2 separate regions of the Homo sapiens genome follow, and region 2 is linked to region 1. The links come from fine-mapping of genetic effects on gene expression. Tissue or cell type: whole blood. Region 1 holds a variant in brackets; the other region holds the start of a gene. All regions are shown on one strand. Distances are between the middles of the regions.

Region 1 (8,000 bases):
CCTGCTTCTCTTGATAACACTTATCACCACTGGGAAATATCTTGGTTTGCTTTTTCACTCCTCTGTCACTTGTTTCTCACTGTTAGACAGTAGCCTCTAGCAGGACAGAGACTTCTTCTGTCTTGATTGTTGAAAGATTTTCAGCAGCTAAAGCAGAACTTGGCACAAAGCAGATGGAAAATAAATATTTATTTCATGAATTATCTTTCAGAAACATCTAGATTGCTATTTTATAACATAATGTTGATCCCTTGAGTACCTTGAGGAACCAAAAGGCTTTTCTGAAACAAAATTCTTGAGAACAAAGAGGATGAAGTAATTGGCTTTGCTTGATGGTAAGGAAAATACTTCCTGCTTTGGCACAACTCAACTCAACATATCACCTTAAAAAACAGCACTAAGAACACGTTTCCCTTTTTAAAGAGGCCCATTCCTTCTAACATAGTGCCTGGCTCATAGCTGATATCAGCAAAGCTTAGTTTCCTCCTTTTAACACTTTTTTTTAAAGAGATGGAGTCTCGCTCTGTTATCCAGGCTGGAGTGTAGTGGGAAGTCACTGCAGCCTCAAACTTGGCCTCTCAAAGTGCTGGGATTACAGGCGTGAGCCACTGCACCCAGCCCTCTAACACTTTAGTGTACTTCTTCACTTACTCATTCACTTCCTTTCTGTTACTAGACAAGGGACAAATCAGTTCATATCTGTACTTCAAGTACCCAACACAATGTCTGATTCATAGGCATTCAATAGATTATCAAACATTGAATTAAAATAGTTTTCTTCCAGGTTGAGGGCCTGACACAGAAGCACTTTCCTTTATTTTGGCACACCAGGTAGAAGCTAGTCCTCCTTGTATGTGGGTTCTGGGACTAAGCAGTATGAACTCCTGCACTACATGTGTCCTAATGATTCACTAAAATAAGCAGTATTGATGTATTTATTAAGCCATTCATTGCAAAAACTTGTACTGCTTCAATAATTGTATTTGCTACTTTTTTTCATCTTTCTTTTTCAAGCTGGTAGTAATAGAAACTTTAAAACAAAACAAAAAATAAAGAACTTAGTCACCAAAGTGTGTGACTCAGTAAAGTGGCAAAGAAAGTAAGAAAAGAAAGCAAGGGCTAAGAAAAATGGTTTCAAGGACACATTGAATCATATTGTCAAATGATTCAGTTTAAGAAAAGACTGATGCAAAATAGCAGAAAAAAAGTTGAGAAAGTCAGAAATGAGTTTCTTCCTGAGCAAAAGATGTAGAAAGCCTGAGATGGGATCATTTCTGGGAAGTACAAAACCATAAATAAGAAAGTTCTGATGTCTGAAAGCTGGTAAGACTGTACACTGTGTAGGAAGACCACCTATCAACTATACTTCAATTTTGTCCACACCAGTAAAACTCTATTTCAATTTACCTTCATGGACCACCTTTGGTGATCTAAGCTGTTTATATCCAGGACACCAATACGAATAAGAAGCAGACCTTACACTTGAACAGTTAGACTTTCAACACCGGGCAGTGCAATTTTCAAAGTCAAAAGTCTATGTCACATGACTACAGTCACCTAAGAGTCTCATTATCTTCTCAAATTCCATCTTCATATTAGTAGGTCAGAATTGTGTCCCAGGGTACTCAAAGGCATTCTGCACTTTTCACTGGCTATTAAAACTCAGAATAGTGGATATCATAATATACCAATGGCTTGTTCTTTTCATAGTATGTCTTTAGCAATGAAAAGCAAATGGTATATGGGGACTTCTAGACTCAACCACAAGGGTCATTCTAGGAAAGGAAGCAGAAAGATTTGAATATGTTTTAAACTGCAAATCAGTAAGGTCATGAGTTTTCTTTCTTTTTTTTTTTCTGAGACAAAGGTTAACATTTTATAAGAATCTCAACCTCTTTTAAATCTGTGGCTTTTGAGCCTGAAAAGCAGGCTTTTAAACGGCTCCTGGTGTTCATGTAAGAACATTGTAATTTCAATTTGAAAACTGAGTAATAGTCTTTGTCGAATTAGATTCTTTCTATGTTATAATATTCCTCTCATTTACAAGCTAATGAAGTTAAGATTTGGAAAGGCTGTTGTTCAAGGAAATAGAGCAACTGGAAGGACAAACACCTAACATAAGCACCTTGACTTTTACTATTAGTTTCTGTCTAAACAGCATGCTTTTGGCCGACGCTTCTTAGAAAAAAAAGGCACACAAGTTGGGGGAAATATTAACTTCCTGAATCCCACAGTGAGTGATGCCATTAGAAAATAAGTACTGTAGTGAAACAGTTCTGGTTGTTTATTTCATTTCAGTAAGAATGTGTGTGGAGACCCTGGTCTGTGTTTGATTGTGCTAAGAATGTATGTCCACACCAGACTTGGACACAAATGTTCATAGAAGCATTATTCATAATAGCCCCAAAATGAGAATAACCCAAATAATCTATCAACTGATGAATGGGTAAACAGAATGTGGTATATCCATAAAATGGAATGTCATTATTATTCAGCCATAAAAAGGAATGAAATGTTGATACATGCTGCAATTTAGATCAACCTTGAATATATTGTATTAAGTGAAAGAAGCCAGTCCCAAAAGACCATATAGTCCACGTATAGGAAATGTTCAAAATAGGCAAATCCATAGAGAGAGAAAGGAGATTAGTGGTTGCCATGGGCTGGGGAGATGGGAAAATGAGAAGAGAATGCTAGTGGATATGGGGTTTCTTTTGGGCATGATGAAAATGTTCTGTAATTAAATCGTGGTAATGGTTGCACAACTCTGTGAATATACCAAAAACCACTCAATTCTATACTTTTAAAGGATAAATTTTATGACAGATCAGTTATATCTCAATTAGATGGTTTTTTTAAAAAGCCATTCTATGTGTTAGGATAGAGGTGGTGCACGTGATCACAGGAAGGATACAAAGGAATCATGAAAGCATATATGTAGATACGAGCACTTTATTCTTTAAAAGGAATGAATGGAACATAGCAAAGGAGTAATAAGGAACATGGCAAAACTTATTTTACAGTTGTTATATTTTACCCCCAAAGCAGATGTAATGTGGCTTGCTTATAAACAATAAAACACACAGGTAAAATGACCGGCTGAATTCATCAGCAGCATAACCTTTCGGCCTAAAATATTCTATGGGTAAGCTGCAGACTTCATGTGTGCTACAGAGAGTAAATAACAGCATTCAGGGAAGAAAAATGTGTGTTGGATGAATTAGAAAGCTTTTGAAAAGGAGCTGGCACCTATACAAAACCTGAGATTTCTAAAGAATGAGGAAAGAAAAAGACTTTTGGAGAGGCAGAGGAGCATGGGCAAAGGCCCTGTGCAGGAATGAGGCTGGCCCTGAAGGAGAAATGCGGGCAGCCAGGTGGGATGGAGCCGGTGAGAGCTGGCAGTGCTGGGCCGCTCTTCAGTCCATTTCTCTTCCCTAGACCATGTCTGCAGGCCTCGCAGCAGGCAACCCTCTTCACTGGGCTTTCTTGGATGGTAAACTCAGACCACAGACCTCAGAGTCTTTGCCAGGGGGAGGTCCTGGTGCAGTAGGTGTCTTTATATTGTTGGAGCACCTCGTTTCTATTAATGCTCACATCTTCCCATATGTAGAATGTTTGGTCCTCACCTCTTTAGAGGAGATGAGACATGTTTTGGAGCCTGGAAAATAAGTCACAAAAAAGAAGTGAAATGACTGGCTCAGTAGTTTGTCAATCCAAGAGTAAAACACCTTGAAGTTCTTCTTATAGGATTCTATCACTACTATATACCTAAATACTACAACACTGTGTCTTCATGCTTAACTTGGCTGGAATGACTGCTATCAAGTAATAGACAACTGTTCATTATTTGTATATTTGCCATACAGTTCAACCCCAGCAAAACAAGAAGGGCCTTCCCTTTAAAGCACAAGTCAGGTACTAAAGTAATATTCTCATATATTTAAACAATAAGTAAAATAAAATCACAACAATACTCTTCTGAATGTGGTAAAAGATGTTTTTCAAGAAACTAATGTAATCTAAGGACATTCTCTAATAGAATAAAAGACAATATCGATGTCTGAGAAATTTAGGTTAAAATCACTTTTAAACACATGCTGAGGGTCATTAATCACAAAGTTTTAGTTAATAGTTCTTATTGTGAGGCTTATAACTCCCCAAGCTTAGACTGATTGATTACTTTAAACACCATCATTTTGTCCTCCTTTTTGAACAGGGGGAAGCTACAATACTGTCAGAGGAAGCTTTTCTCAGCCCCAAGATAGGATAAGCAGCCCTTTTTTAGACTTTTACAGTGACCTTTGGCCAATTGAGAGATAGTCCTGATGTGCTTGGAAGGAAGTCTTCTGTAGCCAGTATAGCCAGCAGATTGGTGGCTGTAACGAAACCTCCAAGACCATCCACTGCAGGCTACAAGAAACCAGAAAGTGACAGGGCTGCAAGGGAGGATGTCTGAATCTCATGGACCTGAAACTATAAACACAGGCCTGCATGCATCATTTCAGGACAGTTTTTATTTCCAAATGCCTGATCTCTGGACAATAGATAGGCTCCTTATGAAATCCTACCACCAAAGGAGAAGCTCAGCTGAGTTCCACTGCAGTTTCAGATCCCTTTTATGCTATTGAGCTATACTAATTGTTGACCAGAGTTTTATAAAAGAGAACAGGAAATCTCTTGTGGTCAAGACAATTTGTAGTG[G/T]TCTGAAAGCATCTGATTCTCAGAAAAGAAAAAATTCTTTGTAACCATATTAAAACCCTTACCAAATATGATTGTTTACAGTTTTCTTTGTATTCGATCAATTCATTTTTGCTTCAGTGGAGACACATTAAAGAGATCTAAAATGAGAAGAAGTGCCACAGTTTTTAAAGTGGAAACTTGTGGAGTCCTTGCACTTTTTTTTTTTTTTTTTTTTTTTTGAGATGGAGTTTTGCTCTTGCTGCCCGGGCTGGAGTACAGTGGCGCCATCTCGACTCACCGCAACCTCCGCCACCCGGGTTCAAGCGATTCTCCTGCCTCAGCCTCTCGAGTAGCTGGGATTGCAGGCATGTGCCACCATGCCCAGCTAATTTTTATTTTATTTTATTTTATTTTTATTTTTAGTAGAGACGGGGTTTCTTCGTGTTGGTCAGGCTGGTCTCACACTCCCAACCTCAGGTGATCCACCCGCCTCAGCCTCCCAAAGCGCTGGGATTATAGGCATGAGCCACAGCGCCTGGCTGTCCTTGCACTTTTTCAGACAAATGCTCCAGCATTATAATAAAATACAACTAAGATCAATAGCACGTTATGGGCATACATCATACATGTATTCTCTTTCCTATACCTTGTGTAACCTGCACAGGATATTAGATATGCAATAACTGCACATATTGTAAAATAATGTTTTAGATTTATCACATGGTTCCAAGAGCATAATTCAGCCTGTTGTCTTATTTAGTAAAAAGTCAACATCATTTTATAACAAGAGACCACCAGGCATTGTACACGTGATTAAGCAATTTTTGTAACTCGGCCTGAATTAATTCGCAGTCTCATAAATTGGATGTGAACATTACCTTATGTATTTGGGGGCCTATCTAACTATAGGACATTACTAATCTAGTAGCCATGTGATTACTGTTATGGGGAACCCAAGCCTACATTCCAGAAACTTACCAATAAAACAAGCAAACAAACAAAAAACTTCTTAAATTAGCTAAGTGTTCACGTTAGTATTATTATTTATTGAAATGGAGTTTTGCTGTTGTTGCCCAGCAACATTGCTGGAGTGCAATGGCATGATCTTGGTTCATTGCAACCTCCCCCTCCCAGGTTCGAGTGATTCTCCTGCCTCAGCCTCCTGAGTAGCTGGGATTACAGGTGCCCGCCACCATGCCCGGCTATTTTTTGTGTATATACATTATATATATATATATATATATATTTTTTTTTTTTTTTTTTTTTAATAGAGACGGTGTTTTCCCATGTTGGCCAGGCTGGTCTCAAACTCTTGACCTCAATTGGTCTGCCCACCTCAGCCTCCCAAAGGGCTGGGATTACAGGCATGAGCCACCGTGCCCAGCCCACTTTATTTTATTATGTCACAGAGCAGTGATCGTAGTGGGACAGTAAGTTTACTACATAGATGGAACAGGGAGTGGTTGTGTCACATGCAAAATATGATGGAGCCAATTTGGATCTTATTATTTATGTTTTACTTAATTATAAGCTTAATTCTGGGCCATGTTACTCTACTCTCCATCAGACTTAAAGTATTTTTTTAAAAAGTCAAGAAAGCAATGGAGACTCTAGTGGAAAATGGAAAAGAGGAATAGCTTGCATTTTTGTATAAAAATTTTATTAATAATGGCCATAATATAGAATTTTTTTTTAATTAGAAAGAAAAATGTCTAATGTTCCCAGTAGATTATAATATGTAATATTCCCTGGAAACCAAGCAACACCATATATCTGTAAATTATCCATCCGAATAGGAAACAAAGGCATCCCAGATCATTTAAATTCAGCAGTAATCCCCAAAGCTCAATTTAGGCATGGTTCTTAATATTCTACTCCAAAACTTCAATATAGTTTATTTACTATTTATCTTCTAACAGAGTGAATAGCATAAAATAAGCAACTTGAAGAAGGGAACTCTAAAGGAATTAAAAATGTAAAATGTAGGCCAGGCACAGTGGCTCATGCCTGTAATCCCAGCACTTTGAGAAGCCGAGACAGGCAGATCACTTGAGTCCAGGAGCTGGAGACCATCCTGGACAACATGGTGAGACCCTGTCTCTACAAAAAAAAAAAAAAAAAAGTGAAAATTAGCCAGGCATAGTGGTGCGCACCTGTAGTCTCAACTACTGGGGAGGCTGATCACTGGAGCCCCGGAGGTCGAGGCTGCTGTGAGCTGTGATTGTACCACTGCACTGCAACCTGGCCAACAGAATGAGACCCTGTCTCAACAACAACAGCAACAAAAAGTAAAATGTAAATAATAAGATCCAAATTGGCTCTATCTTACTTTGCATGCAAAGCAACGGCTCCCTGTTCCATCCGTGGCACTATGCTTGCTCCCTGCACCTATGCCTGGTTTGAATTGGTAGCCACAGCCTCTTCTGAGTATACAGCTGCAGTTAAATCCTGGAGCAAGTGCAGTGGCCCAGGGAGCTCAGTCCACAGCTGTGCTTTAGGGCGAGCATTCATTTTCATCATTGATGTCTCTAGATCCTAGTTTTCTCATTATTTTTCATCCTCTGATCTTATTAAATCTACATGGCATTCTTCCTCTTTCACAGGATACAAACCCCGTGCTTCCCGACATGCATGTGCACATGCACACACACTCACACCAACACATCACACCCATTCACACGTGGACAGACACACGCACACTCTACACACACACAACACTCACCACACACATTCACACCACACATACACACTGACACATCACATTCATTCACACATGTACACACATACACATGCAGACACACTCCACACACATTCACATACCAGACACACCACACACATTCACACCACACGTACACACTCACACCACACATACACACCATCCACACTCACACTGACACATCACACCCATTCACATGTGTACAGACCTACACATGCAGACACACTCTACACACATTCATATACCACACACACCACATACATTCACACCACCTATACAGACACACATCACACATACTCATACCACACATACACCACACACTCACACTGACACATCACACCCATTCACATGTGTACAGACATACACATGCAGACAAACCTACACACATTCACATACCACACACCCACATACATTCACACCACACATACACACCACACACCCTCATACCACACATACACATCACACACATACAAACCCACCACACACCACACATACACACACCACACATATACGTGCCACACATACACATAAACTCACCACACATACATACACACACTCCCCACACACACACACCACACATACACCACACAGACCACACATACAC
Region 2 (8,000 bases), 120 kb before region 1:
TAGGTATTTTGGAAAATATAGTACAGTTTTCACATTTATACTTATTACTGCTATGAAAAAATTTCTGAAGTCTTTCCTTGCTGATAAGACATGGACACAGTCATGTAGAAGGATGACAGGAGAGGGCTATTGACAGTTGTGGTTTCTTAATTCTATAAAGCTTTGAATTGTACCAGGTCAAGTAATCAGTGCTTACTACATCTTATGAAAGTAAGTGATGCTTTAGTATGAATAAGAAGAGTATCAAATTTTAAAGAAGGAAGAAGGGAAGGAAGGGAGGAAGCAGTGAGGGAAGGAAAGAAAAGGACAAAGAGAGAAAGGAAGAAAGAAGAAGAGAGAAAAGGAGGTAAGTAAAGAGGGGAAGAGAAAGAGAAGGCTAGAAAATTCCATGTTATTGAGACCAATTTTTTCAATCTTATTTAAAAAGTCATAAAAATATGAAGTATAAAATGTTAACATGGGTCCATAGACGCTCCATCTCCAAAATCTTACTCTCACCCCCTACCCACTCACCCATGAGCACCAGTAATGTTTTTTAAGTCAGTTCCTCTGTATGAAATTGAGCTTTTTGGAGACAGAAACATTTTGCTCAGCTCTGTGCCCTCCTAGCATAGTGTGAGATCCTGTCCATAGTTGATATTCCATAAGTGTCTGTTGAGTGGGGTTATTTCTTCCTCAGTGAATGGCTTGTCTCGTGACAACTCAAATGAATTGGCAAATTCAAACACTGATAAAACTTGATTGCAGCCTCTGCATTCTATGTATTAGTACAATCTTGATTTGAGAACATTTAGCAAAATTTGCAACCACTGGTTTCTAAAATGTCTGTTCCATGCATTTGGGGAGCTCTTTTAATGATCCATCTACAATTTTAGACAGCGAGACATGGGATAGATGGGCTGAACAACCCCATTTTATAATATATTAAAATTCAAGTGAAATAATATATGTGAAACTATTATCCAAACTGTAGCACATTATGTTATAGTTACATATTGTTACACAATAGTGGGTTAATACTATAAGGATTACATTGTTATTGTTATTCTTGTTCATGAAATTCCATAGTCATTGATTTGGGTTAAGACATTGTCTCCAGAATGCTCATTAAATCCCCAGCCTTGGCTCCAAGATAATACCCATCCATCCTTCTTCTCGCAAAGGTTCATATGAGAATCAAATATATGAAAAGACATGGAAGTTTGTTTAATTCCTGAGTTATCTGCAAGTGTAGGAATAATAACAGGGTTCATATGAGAATCAAATATATGAAAAGACATGGAAGCTTGTTTAATTCCTGAGTTATCTGCAAGTGTAGGGATAATAACAGTTATTGAAGTCCATGTGCTAGTCACTTTTGAAGAAATTTACACTAATTTAAGTAACTCTCTCAGCAGCCCAGCCACACAACTACTATCTTGATTGCGTAGGTAAGAAACTGAGGCTTACGGAGTTGGGATTTGAACAAAGGTAATTGGACTTCAGAGCATGTATTTTAACCACTATTCTACAATATTACAAGCCCTTGAAGATTCTCTTATTAACTAGCTGTTCCAAGAAACTTAACATACTTCATGATATGTGCACAGATTTGCGTTTACCAAGCATCTGAGCCGAGTTTCTCCAGGGATCTGAGAGATGGGTGGCCAGCAGAGTCAAGGTCCCAAATCAGCAGACCTGAAGTTACATTTCTGTAGCAAAAAATAAGTGTATTTATGCTACAAGGGCAGGGGCAAGGGTCGACACTCAGCTCTCTCTCCTTGGTGCCCGAAGGAAGCTTAACTAAAACCTACATGATCATAAGGGCGGAGGAGAGTCTCTGAAGTATCATTATTGACATGCCCTGGGTGTGAGAGGTATGCTATCAACACTTAAACCTGCCTTCCTACTCGGTGTGACCCACGGAATTAACATCATACAGGGTATGGATTGGGCAAACAGGCATTTGTTCGTTAAACCCTCTCACACCAGTGCTCTGGGTGACCTCCTGAAGCTGGAAAAAGTACAATTAGGTGTATTAATTGTACGATTAACAAATTGTAAGTGACTTTCTGTTACTCGATATTGTTGGAGATTGGGTTGTGTGTGCTACTCAGTGTTTTGGATCAGCGAGTTGCCTTGTGCAGGGCACATTCTGATGTATTATCGATTACTATAGCCTTCCCTTTCAGCACACCTTTCTCTTCTCCTCTCTGACTTTCTCTGTGTCAGGCACACCCAGCTCTCTGACTGCACTAGCCCATCTGAGCCCTTTGTAAAGTCATCCATAAGCTGATATTTATTGAGTGCCTACGTGTGCCAGGCAGTGTTTTGAAACCAGAGACAAAGATTAGGTACCTCTTCTTGGGAAGCTCAAGTTAATTCAAATGTGCTTAATCGGTTCTCTCAGGGGAATATGCATTCAGAGACATCAAGTCTGGGTACACCTGGGAAAGGGTACGGTTGGAGGGAGCTGTTCCTACAGAGATCTTCATGTACCAACACAGAGGCAACCACCTACTTTGCTTACCCTGAAAGGTGGTGTTGCTCCCACACTGAGTACCAATATGAAAGCATACAATACAGGTACAGTTATTTGTTATGCAGGCTGTCTTGGAACTAGATGATGTTTCAAATGGCACTTCCCAAATCTGCCAGAGCCTCTTACCCTCTTACGCCTGTTATGATTTCTAGAATGTGCTGAAATGATCCCCAAACAGCATCTCTGGCTAATTGAATCCTGGCTAACAAAGAGCTGACTAAAGTGCATTTATCAATTGCTTAAGAATTCTTTATACCCAAATGTGACCTTGTGTTATAACTATCTATCATTGGCTTTAGAAAGTGGCAGGGTCATGGATCCATAAAAAGCTGTTAAGAAAAAACCAGACCACTTGGAAAGGCTGTCCCAGATCTCTCCAGACCAGTATCCAGGGGCCAGAACTTCTCTGCCCCCCATCCAGTCCAACACTGAATTGCAGAACCACCCTGGGTATGACCCAGGAAGAGACTTCTTAGAAGGCTTTCATCAGATACCTATCTAGAGGCAAAGTGCAGGCTAGATGGGTATGGGCAAGAGAAGAGCAGAGACAGCATAACTGTGAAATCCACCCCCGACCTGACCACCCTACATAGTAACCCTGCCAGTTGGTTCTTGCCTACTCATCCTAATGCCACCCAAAGTCTCTTACCCCCAGAACGCTGATTTATTGGTTTTGAGTTCGTGTTAGTAGCTTAAACTGTCTCCTTGATTTCTCTGTATTTGTTTATTTGTTCGCTTGGTTACTTGCTGTCTCCCACCCCTACCCCGAAAAAACCTATCAGCTCTACACAGCCTTAAAGTGTAGTTGCTAAGTTCCTCTCCGTATCCTCAGTTTCCAGAACAGTGTGAGCTGGCATATAGTAGGCGCTTAATAAATACTCATTGAAGGAGTGAATGAATGGGGAAGCTTATTCCAAGGCCCTGAACATGGACTTCTGGCAAGGGAGCCTTCCAAACGCTGGCTTGGGCGATGCTGCTGGGATCCCAGCCACCAGATCTTTAATAAGCCTCTGACCCCTTCCCGAGGGTGGAAGGGCGAACCGAGCTTGGCCCCCACCCACTAGCCGGACCCAGAAAATAGAAGTCTAAACGGCAAATGCATCCAGGGCTCCAACTCTCCCAGCAACCTCCAAATGAGGCTGACGGCCTTGGACAGGCGACGGCCTTGGACAGGCCCCGCCCGGAGCCCCTCGGCGGCCGCCCCCCGCCCTCCCCCGCAGCCTGCAGTTCCCCCGGGCGGCGTGGACAGCCCCGGCCGGCCAGCTGAGCCCGTGTGGGCGGCGCGGGCAGGAGCCGCCCCACACGCGTCCCGCGACGCCCGCTCCAGATGCGCCGCTGCAGGGCCCGGCCGCCAGCCGAGTTGGCCGCGCGCGCCCGGGGGAGCGCAGAGTTTGGAAAGTCTTCGAGAAGCTTCAGAGGAGGGAAGGGGGTGGGAAGAGTGGGGGTGCAAGAGAGAAAAACCCGCCTCTTGCGAGTTGAGCGAGGAAGAGGGGGGGGAAGGCTCCGAGTTCCGCTTCCTGAACGGCGGGTGGATAGAGAAGGTTGGCGCGGGGAAGACCGGCGGGAGGCGCGCCCCGGGCCCGCGGCGCGATTGGCGTGACCGGCGATGGCCGGTGAGCGGACCCGCAGGTTCACCCGGAGCCTGTTGAGACCTGGGCAGGCGGCCGAGCTCCGGCACAGCGCCGCGTCCGCCGCCGCGGTGGCAGTCAGCAGCCGGCAGCAGCAGCGGGTGAGTGCGGCGCGTCCTCCGCGCCTTCCCGCGCGCCCCAGGCGCCCGGGGGGAACGGAGCCCAGCTTCCCCAAAAGCTCGGCGGGCCCAGGTCCCCGCAGCTCACGGGTCCTCTCCTCCGCACTCCCTCCCCCGCCGCCTCTGCGGGCTCCCCCGGCGCCACCTCAGCGAGGCAGCGCCACCGACGCGTAAGGACCGGGGGCGCGTTTGTGCACGCGGGACGCTCAGAGGAGCAGCTGCGTGGGTAGCAGAAGCGCAGCGTGGGAGAGGATGTGCAGGGGCTTTAATGGGGCGCGAGGGGGCCGGAATGCACCGCCAGTCACACTGGTGCTAAGTGATACGAGTGCCAGAGACCCCGGGTGGGGTGGGGGGATCTACAGAACAGAACCCCTGAGTCCGGAGGTCTGCGCGTCCCTCTCACCCTCCAGTAAACAGACCAGTGCGCTGAGAGAGAGGGATGCAGTCCGTGGTCCTCGCCCTGGTTAGAGCTGGGGCCCCCCGACGTTAACTATCGCAGAAATAGATGTACTTGGAACAGCCCTCCCACCGCAGGGTAAAAACCCACAAACCACTTAATACTCCTCCAGAAAGGGCTGAGGAACACAGGCTGGAGGAGACGTGGGTCATTAGGTCTCCAGCGGTTTCTGATATTTTTCTAAGATGTTTCGCGGGGTTCTCCCACCAGCAATGCTTTACTGGTTACTTCCTTATTGAAACGGCTTCTAAGTGCTGGGTGATTTCCGCGGGAAGTCCCTGGGGCAGCAGCCAGCATCTGATGCTAGGATCCTATCCATACCAACCCAGATGTTCCTGCGTTGCAGTAGGTCCACACTGCCGGGGAGAGGTGGCAAGAGACAAATCAACTCTAGTGGAAACGGGAAGCGAGTGGGAACAACAGCCTCACAGCAAGACCGGGGCTCAGCAGCCGCGCTCTTGGCCTGCGTTTGGTGGACCGGAATCCGGGTTGTGTGTTTCATTTTCTTTTTTGCCAGAAAATATCATTAGGAACTAAACGGCTCTTTTTAAGAGTGTGAAAGTGTTACTCTTGCCAGTCACCAATGAGGAGGGCGCCAAAAGCTTCCCAGAGCCAGTTCCCACAGCCAGGACTATTCTCTAAAGCCAGAGGTCGGAAAGTTGAACAGAACGGAAGCAAATTGCCTGGCAGAGGGAAGAGGCATCGGGTGCCCAGGGGGTGTAGAGCGGGCGGGGGTGATTGGAGTGTGAAACGAATTGGTGGCCAGGGTGCCTTCTCTTGCACTTACACTAGCTGCAGTCCGCAGTTACCCAGAGGTGGTTCAACTGTTAGCTCACTCTGTGCCAGGGACAGCATGTGGTACTGCTATCAGCGTGCACATTTTCAGGACACCAAAGACAAACTGTTCAAAAGAACATTAGAAGAAAAGATTCAATTCGAGTAAAAGTAGAGATAAGAAAATCTCCACACAGTAGTAGAAAGTACTTTTTACTTTTGAATGATCATTCAGAATTGTGGTTTTGTCATTTTCTGCCATTCCCTTGACAAAAACTTTATTTTGCAATTGACTCATTGGACTGAATCTCACTGAGGATCTGATGGAAACACACAGCGTTCAATTGGAATAAACAGCTTAAACTGTTGTGTGTTTTTTTAAATGTAGATCCTCCTAGAATTTTTGTGGCACTAGAATTTCTATAAAGATTATGTATCCCAGATACCCTTCTACACCACACACACACACACACACACACACACACACACGCACTGCTTTCTCCAAAATTATGTCAGATTTGAAATCCTAGGGTATCTTGTCAAAATGAATAAGCTCGCTGTCTTTAAAAAGAGGTGGGGGAGGGGAGATTCAGTGGCAAAGGTGGTCCTGACTCCCCTTGCTTCGCTTCAGCACCTTGGCCAACACTCCTAAACTAGCTTTTGCCAAGACATTTCATGGGATCTTACACATCTAGGCAGGCAGTTTTGGCTGCTATTTTGGCAGCAAGAACGCATGTGCTTTGCATACTATCCCATCAGTTAACTCTTGAAGGGAAACAGGAAGGTGATGAGTTCTCTGAGCTGGCACCTGAACTCGGTGGGATTCTGTGGGTGTAGAGCATCCCTTCTGAACCTAAAACCGTGTCATTGGACTATGTGGTAGAGACTAATCTTAGCGTACATTGATGCAATCCCTTAAGACTCTTCATATCTGTTGCTTCAAGTTCTCAAAACATGGTTGTCAAGGGAGAAAAATGATAGGATGTTGGGGAAAATATTATGGATATCCGACTTCAGTACAGACTCATAGAACCGCGGGTGTGTATTGGAGCAAGCCATCCTCTATTGCAAGGTATTTGAAAGAGACTAGAAACTCCTGCTGAGAAAAAGTATCTTACTGCTAGATTTGTATATTCCCCTTTCTGAAATCCCTGTCTTGGGGACACAAATCCTCCAGGACATTGCCAAAAGATTGCCATAGGGTTTGAATTCTGCTCTCTCCAATAAGTTTAGGTAAGGTTGTCAGGTTAACAAGATAGTTTTCTTCCCTGAGAATGGGGTGTGTATACAGAGAGAGAGAGAGAGAGAGAGAGAGAAGACAGGAAGCCTTCAAAATGTGTTTGAATATGGAGAGGAGAGATCAAGGAGATGCTGAGTGAGGGTAATGACTGGGAAAGCCAAATTTTAAGGCAGTTGTTGAGGACAATACAGGTGTATGCCAAAGCAAATTTGATGTCAGTTTTTACCCAAAGCACTGTATGTAGTAGGCTTATGTACTTGCAGACTCCTAGACACGAACCACCTTATTCTTCACCCCTCCCAAGAACAGTAATGAACAAAAACATACATTTCAAAAGGAGAAATATTTGCTCCTTCATTATCCTAAAATTCCCCATAGAAAATAAATGAAAGACAACTCATTCGAAGATCAATTCAAAGGATCATGTCAAGTTCTCATAATTTCCTGAAATCTCATTCCTGATTGTTTCATAAAGCAAGCTTCTCTAGGGTAGAATTTCAGCCCGAAAATGATTAGAAACATTTGTCTCATATCAGAACTGGAGTGTTTTATTACATTGGTTGAATATACATACCATGTTGGCTTCAAAGTTGTAATGCCACTAATTAGAAATTCCTTTTTGATAAGAAGCTCATCTTTTAAAATGAATGAAGTGTATCTGTACCCTAGCATGAATTAGTTCATTTAGATAGCTTTCTATAATTCATTAAGATATACATTTAGGATTTGTGCACTTTTCTGCATATATATTGTATTTGAGAGCATTTCAAAAGAAAAGACTTTTTAAAAAAAGTATAGGTAAACTTTTTGCAAACACCCCATCAGATCTGTCACTTTGAGAGAAATGGAGTTTTATTTATGGAATGTTTTAGGTGGGTTAGTGCAATGGAAGGCTTCAGATAACCAGAAGGATGAGATCTACATAGAGTCAGATGATGGAAAGGAAGCATTTACTAGAGATCAAATAATCATTTGGTCAGTTTTAGCCCAAAGCCGTTCATCTATTTCCTAGACTGGAGCTTACCACTTTAGTTACATGCACTTTTAATGCCTTTATATTTACTCTATTATTAGACAAAAACTCCTTTGCAACTCCTTTTTAATTGTATCTAATTTTGTTATTAACTCATTTTAAAGAGAAAGCATCCTGCCGGAAGTGATTATACTTAACCAGGAGGTTTTCTCCCTTCCTACCCACCCAGAAAGTGTAAGGGGTAAAGAGGGGAAAGTATTTATTTCAGTAAATTCCATTTCCCTTCTT

The links. PIP is the estimated chance that this variant, and not a neighbour inherited with it, causes the effect.
Region 2: it holds the start of DOCK10, and the variant in region 1 is fine-mapped to the expression of DOCK10 in whole blood (INTERVAL, PIP above 0.99).

What each region holds. Positions count from the first base shown.
Region 1 is chr2:224,919,039-224,927,038 of GRCh38, reverse strand. The region is part of intron 2 of DOCK10 (dedicator of cytokinesis 10); the gene reads left to right. Among named protein-coding and RNA genes, the nearest start is that of MIR4439, 88 kb to the left of the region's middle. The variant G/T (reference allele first, on the strand shown) is at 4,702.
Region 2 is chr2:225,038,502-225,046,501 of GRCh38, reverse strand. It overlaps DOCK10 (dedicator of cytokinesis 10), which reads left to right and starts at 4,034. Exons shown (of 56, transcript NM_014689.3): 1 at 4,034-4,250. The coding sequence starts at 4,128. RefSeq lists silencers at 3,638-4,007, 4,198-4,437 and an enhancer at 4,988-5,327.